Linked DNA regions of Homo sapiens: region 2 is linked to region 1. The links come from fine-mapping of genetic effects on gene expression. A gene starts in region 1. The other region holds a variant in brackets. All regions are shown on one strand. Distances are between the middles of the regions. Region 1 holds the start of CYB5R4 (cytochrome b5 reductase 4). Region 2 overlaps RIPPLY2-CYB5R4 (RIPPLY2-CYB5R4 readthrough).

Evidence for each region.
Region 2: its variant is fine-mapped to the expression of CYB5R4 in whole blood (TOPMed, PIP above 0.99).

Annotation. Positions count from the first base shown.
Region 1 is chr6:83,858,249-83,861,164 of GRCh38, reverse strand. It overlaps CYB5R4 (cytochrome b5 reductase 4), which reads right to left and starts at 1,476. Exons shown (of 16, transcript NM_016230.4): 1 at 1,308-1,476. The coding sequence starts at 1,382. The region is part of intron 3 of RIPPLY2-CYB5R4 (RIPPLY2-CYB5R4 readthrough); the gene reads right to left. RefSeq lists a silencer at 1,356-1,405.
Region 2 is chr6:83,924,661-83,927,576 of GRCh38, reverse strand. All of the region lies in intron 12 of RIPPLY2-CYB5R4 (RIPPLY2-CYB5R4 readthrough), which reads right to left. The region is part of intron 10 of CYB5R4 (cytochrome b5 reductase 4); the gene reads right to left. Among named protein-coding and RNA genes, the nearest start is that of CYB5R4, 66 kb to the right of the region's middle. The variant C/T (reference allele first, on the strand shown) is at 1,241.

The DNA.
Region 1 (2,916 bases):
AACACAGTTGGTATTTTTAACGAAGAAGGGCAGTAACTCATATTCTAATTCAGAGATTCTTTCTGGAAAGACTGTTATTCAGTCAAGTATTTAGCTTCAAGAAATAGGTCAAAAACCAATGAGAAAAATATACATGATTGGATGGCTAGATGATTGATATATGAATCAGTAAATGAAATTTCACAGCAGAACCACAACACAAGCCTACGCAATTTAGGGCAATATTTCTTAGCCAGTTTCCTTTTCTGCGAAATAGAGACAATAAAAGCTTTCACTTCAAAGGATAATTGTGAAAATTAAAGTTAATACATGCAAAGCACTGAGAATATACACGGCCACCCGTAAGTACTTAAGAAATCTCTGGAAAGCTAATGAAAACCACAGATCCCTGAACCTATATTCATTCTGAACTAGAATCAGAACGCCAGGTCTAAGTGGAGAAAAATAAGAAAATCGATAAGGGTTCCAAACGATGCTAAGACTCAAGAGTTAACCGAGTGGCCCAAGTTAAGTGGAAGTGTCACAAACGAAAGATAAAGATATGGTTACAGAATGAGGAACTAACAAATAGGAACAAACAACATTCGCAAAAGAACAAAGAACACAATTTTTATTGAATTCTGCAAATATAAAATATATCTGTACAGTATTCCACCTGTTGCTAACAGCAACTGTGCTCAACAAGAACTCAAGAGTATTATTATATTTGCTTCGAAGTTAGCAAGTGATACTAGTAGAAAAGGCAATGACAAAACAATCAGGTACCAGAGGAAGAAAGAAAGGCAGTATGTCTTGGATAGTGTCTGTAAACCTGACCTAGCTCCCCAACTCCAGAAGTCCCCATCCTTGCACGGACGGTCACTGTCGCCACTGCCAAGCCTTTCCCTCCTGCGAGGGAACCCACATCGAGTGATGTGGTACAACTCCTTCAGGCAGTGAAGAACAAAAGACCAGGGAGAAGATGAGGTTGAGGGAAGGCGGCTAATACCGAGAGCCTATAATACCGCAAACACAGTGCCTGGCTCTGTCATATAAATTTAAATCGCGGGAAAGGACTTGGAGGAAGGGAACGGATAGAGCGGGATAAAGGACCAGAAAGAAGAGGGACTGCTAGGGGAAAGGGAGGAGGTAAGGAGAGTTTAGGGACTGTAGACAAAGTGGGATCAGAAAGAGGTTGCAGGCAAGGACAGCAGGGAACGACAGCTTAGAGAGGGGTGCAGGAGCTGGGAGTTGGGGCGGAAGAAGAGAACACACTGCCAGAGCTCGAAACGCAGCGAGGGGAGAGACTCACGGAGCCACCCGCTTACCTTGCTACGCCCCCCGGAGGCGACACGCTGCTGCGACCTGGGGGCCGGGAAAGACTGGGAAGGGACGTTCAGCATCTTCAAACCCCGGCCCCGGGCCCTGCCCGGGGATCGCCGCCAGACGGGACAGCACCTCCAGCTCCGGCTCTGTGGCCGGGCAGAGGCCAAGCCCCCGACCCACTTCCGGGGTCGCCAGGGGTGAGGCGCATTCTGACGCAGCACGTCCGCGGAGGGCGGAGCCAACGGGACGGAGGGAGGGCCGGCAGGGAGGAAGTACGCATGCTCAGCTAGTTCCGCATCCCGAACTTCAGCACCGGAGCAAGGTGACAGCTATTTCGTGGAAAGATTAGAGAGTGAAGCTGTTCCTTAGCCTTGGTGCTGACCGAATGTGGGAACAAATTCTTAGTCCTGTTAACCCGGAACAGCAATGTCTGTTCATTGTTAAGCAGTACCATCACACTACTTGAAATATGGACTAAAACACACTACTTGAAATATGGACTAAAACGAATTTTAGTTTCTCTGAAATTCTTTCCTGTAAGGCACTAGGCTGTAATGCAAAGAGCATCTCACACCTTTAAGAGCAAAAATATCAAATGTCAACAGCCACTACTGTGGGGTAAGAAGAAAACCTCACCTTTAATCATCCTTAAACTTCACCTTTAAGCATGCTGAGGGCTAATGAATGCGCGAAAGACGTTAGTAAAGTCACCTTCTGCTCTATTCACCCACTCACAAATTCTCCCTCCTTATGTAACTTCCTGTCTTCACTGGGAATTGTGTACTGATGCAGCTCACCTCCAGCTGTGGTGATGAAGTAACGTTTAAAAGTCAGATTTGGTTTGCATGCCATCCCTGCACTTAATGACTGAGCTGTCTTATGCAAGTTACTTTAGTATCTCAAAGTCTCATTTTCCCCATCTGCATAATGGGTTTATTAAAGATTAAAGGATCATGTGTAAACTACATACTGCAGTGCCTGATTAATATTAGGTACTGAATAAGTGGCAGTGGCTGTTTGTGCTATTCCAACATATTAATGGGAAAAGGACCAACACTGTGCAGGTAAACACCAGGCTCTAATGCTCAAAATCTGATGGTTTTTGTTTGTTTGATTGATTGTTTTGTGTGTCCCTTGGGGAACACATAGATCTTGAGAGTAGAATCCAATAAGGGAGAAAGTTTTCAGGAGAAGAAACATAGTTCTAAATAATCCTCCCCATCCTCCTTTAATTACTAATTTTTCCTAACTCTGAACATATTGTCATGCTTTAAACTTTCTCTGTTTAACTACTTAGTTCTTAAAGTGCCTAAAAAATCAAGGTTATGTTTGCAGAATCAGAAGAAAAAGTGTGTGACTATATGTGGCCATTCAAATACAAGCATTCAAATAAGGTAGCCACCTATGACATTCACCTCTATCCATTTTTATTTGCAATTGAAATGCTTATTATGAGAAGACTGAATTTGAGCTAAAAGAACCTCATGACTATAATTAACTGTATTACTTTGACTTTGCAAATTGCTTCTGTGTTCTCTCTCATTAAATGATGACATATTCTTCTAGAGTCTACACAAGAAAAACTAATCACTGAGATTTATTTCACTTCTC
Region 2 (2,916 bases), 66 kb before region 1:
ATATCCTTTATAGTAAAATGATAAACTTAAATGTATCCCTGAGTTTTGTGAGCCATCCTAGCAAATTTTTGAACCCAAGAAGGAGGCTGTGATAACACTGATTTATAGGTAGCTGGTCAGAAGATAGATCACAACCTGGAATTTGCAACTGGCATGTGAAGTAGGGGGCAGTCTTGTGGGACTAAGCCCTTAACCTGTGGGGTCTGCCCTAAACTCCAGGATGTATCAGACTTGAGTTAAATTGTAGGATAGACAGTTTGCTGTAGAATTGGTTGTTGGTGAGAAGAAATCTCACATTTTAGTGTTCTGAGTGGAGCGGTAAGACTAGGAAAAAGTTTGTTTTTTCCTATCTCATGCAATAAATTATATATGATAATTTTACATATTTAAAGAAGATAAACTGAATACATGCAGTTAGTTCCTTCTGAATCCCCTAAAATAACAACAAAGAGGGTTTTTGTATGTGTGTTTGATTTTTAAGGCATAAGCCCACACAGACAGGAAGAACGGAAATCAGAGACAAAAGCAACAAAACTTTAGGAGCTGACAAGGCAGAGAGAAGACTGGTAAATGACTCAACAGACCCAAGACAGATGAATGCTAAGCCAGAAGTGTAGAAAGCCAAGAACCAACATGCTTATAATACAAAATTCCTTTAAGGCCCAGAAACTGGCAGGACCAAGTACCTCTGGCATCAGAGTCAAGGTAGAATTAAAATTACTTTCTCAATACAAGTTCATTTAAGAAGCTTGGATAGGTCTTCCCATCCCCTTGAAGTCCTCCCCTACTTAGCACAGCCACATGACTGACACTTCCCCACATGAGCAAAATATAAGAAGTTTGCACTCTAGAGGGTAAACAAGGGGTCTTTGGATTGGGTCTATGCTATAGACTGAATTGTGTCCCCTCACCAAACACATATGTTGAAGTCATAACCCCCAACACTTCAGAATGTGACGACATTTGGAAATGGGGTCTTCATTTAAAAGGTAATTAAGTTGGCTCTAATTCATTGTGACTGGTATTTTTATAAAGAGGACATTAGGACACAGACACACAGAAGGAAGACCATCTAAAGAAACAGGAAAAAAGGAGGCCATCTACAAGCTAAGGGAAGAAGTCTCAGAAGAGACCGACTCTGCCAAAGACACTCAGTCTGTAGTAGTTTGTTACTGCAGTCCTAGCAAACTAATATAACATTCTAAGAAAAAAAAAAAAAGAAAGAAAAAATTAAGTGACG[C/T]TTACAGATATACCAGAAGCTAGGCCCAGCCTTCTTCCCCACATGGCTTCTGAAATGCTGGGTACAAGGTAGGAGATTGTTCACTCTAGGGACTCTTGGCATTGGACTTTTCCCAAAGAAATGTTCCAGCCATATAGTGAATATAACCGTTGACAAGCCACACCCACATGCACAGTTTCCAATTAGCTTTACAGTCCCACCCTGAAATATGAGCAGATAGTAAAAGATTAGGAAACATTCAAAGAAAGCATTTAATATTAAAGACACCATAACAAATGAAAAACAACAAACCTGAGGGACACAGAAGTTATACAGTGAGAAGAAAACATTACCAGTCATTCTTTAAAAGATAAGCTAATAAGAATAGGATGCTAAAACAAAGGAAAAGAAATCAAAGGATTTATAGAAGTTAAAAATATGAGTAGAAATGAGTAACTCAATAGAAGAGCTAGAAGACACAGCTGAAGACATCTTGCAGAAAGTAGAACAAAAGGACAAAACTGAAAATAAGAGAGAAAAGATAAGATAATTAGAAGAACAGTTAAGGAAGTTCAATATGTAGAAAGTAAAACAGACCATGGGGAGAAGAAAAACCAATAATAGTTTCCAAGAACTGAAGATCATTAAGTTTCCATATTGAAAAGATTAGCACAAAAAATGTATACCCAGCATGAAGGATGAAAAATCATCCATGTTCTGGCACATCATTGTGAAATTCCAAAACACTTAGAACAAGGAGCAAATACTACCAATTTCCAAAGAGAAAATACAGGATATGTTCATTTTGCAAAGTATCATCAAGTAGAGCACTTCTAATATGCACCCTTTTCTATATATATGTTAAACTTAGATAAAAAGCTTTTTAAAAATGAAAAGAAATGAATGGTATCATCTTTTAGAAAAGATATGGTTTGGATCTGTGTCCCCTTCCAAATCTTAGGTTGAATTGTAATCCCCAGTGTTGGAGGTAGGGCCTAGTTGGAGTTGACTGGAGCATGGGGGCGGATCCTTCATGAATGGTTTAGGACCACCCTCTTGGTGGTGTTCTCGTGACAGAGTTCACACAAGATCTGGTTGTTTAAAAGTGTGTAGCACCTCCCCCATCTCTCTCCTCCTCCTTCTCCAGCCATGTAAGATGTGCCTGTTTTCCATTCACCTTCTGCTATGATTGTAAGTTTCCTGAGTCCTCCCCAGAAACCAAGCAAATGCCAGGACCATGCTTCCTATACAGCCTGTGGAACTGTGAGCCAATTAACCTTTTTTCTTTATAAATTATCCAGTCTCAGGCATTTCTTTATAGCCATGTGAGAAGAGACTAATACAAGAAGTAAACTGAGAAACCAGTTTAATTAAGAAGAAAAATAGTAAACATGTCTTCCTCATTAGGAAAAATATCAAGCAGACATACAAAGCATAAACTTAAACTTGTTTTTGTATCTTTCACAAAAGGGGACCTGAAAGAGAAAATGGTTGATCAACAGTCTAAGCACAAGTGGGCTTCTTCATTCAGGTATCATTACGTAATGACTTTGCTATGCCTAAACATTAGATAGTAGAGTCTGAAATTTAACTTCTATGGGAAAAAAAAGCAGGACAACACACATTGTCCCTTTCAAACTTCCTAGCAGTAGATACAAGGACCCTTCAGCTCATTTCAAAGCAGCCTTCCAAACTCT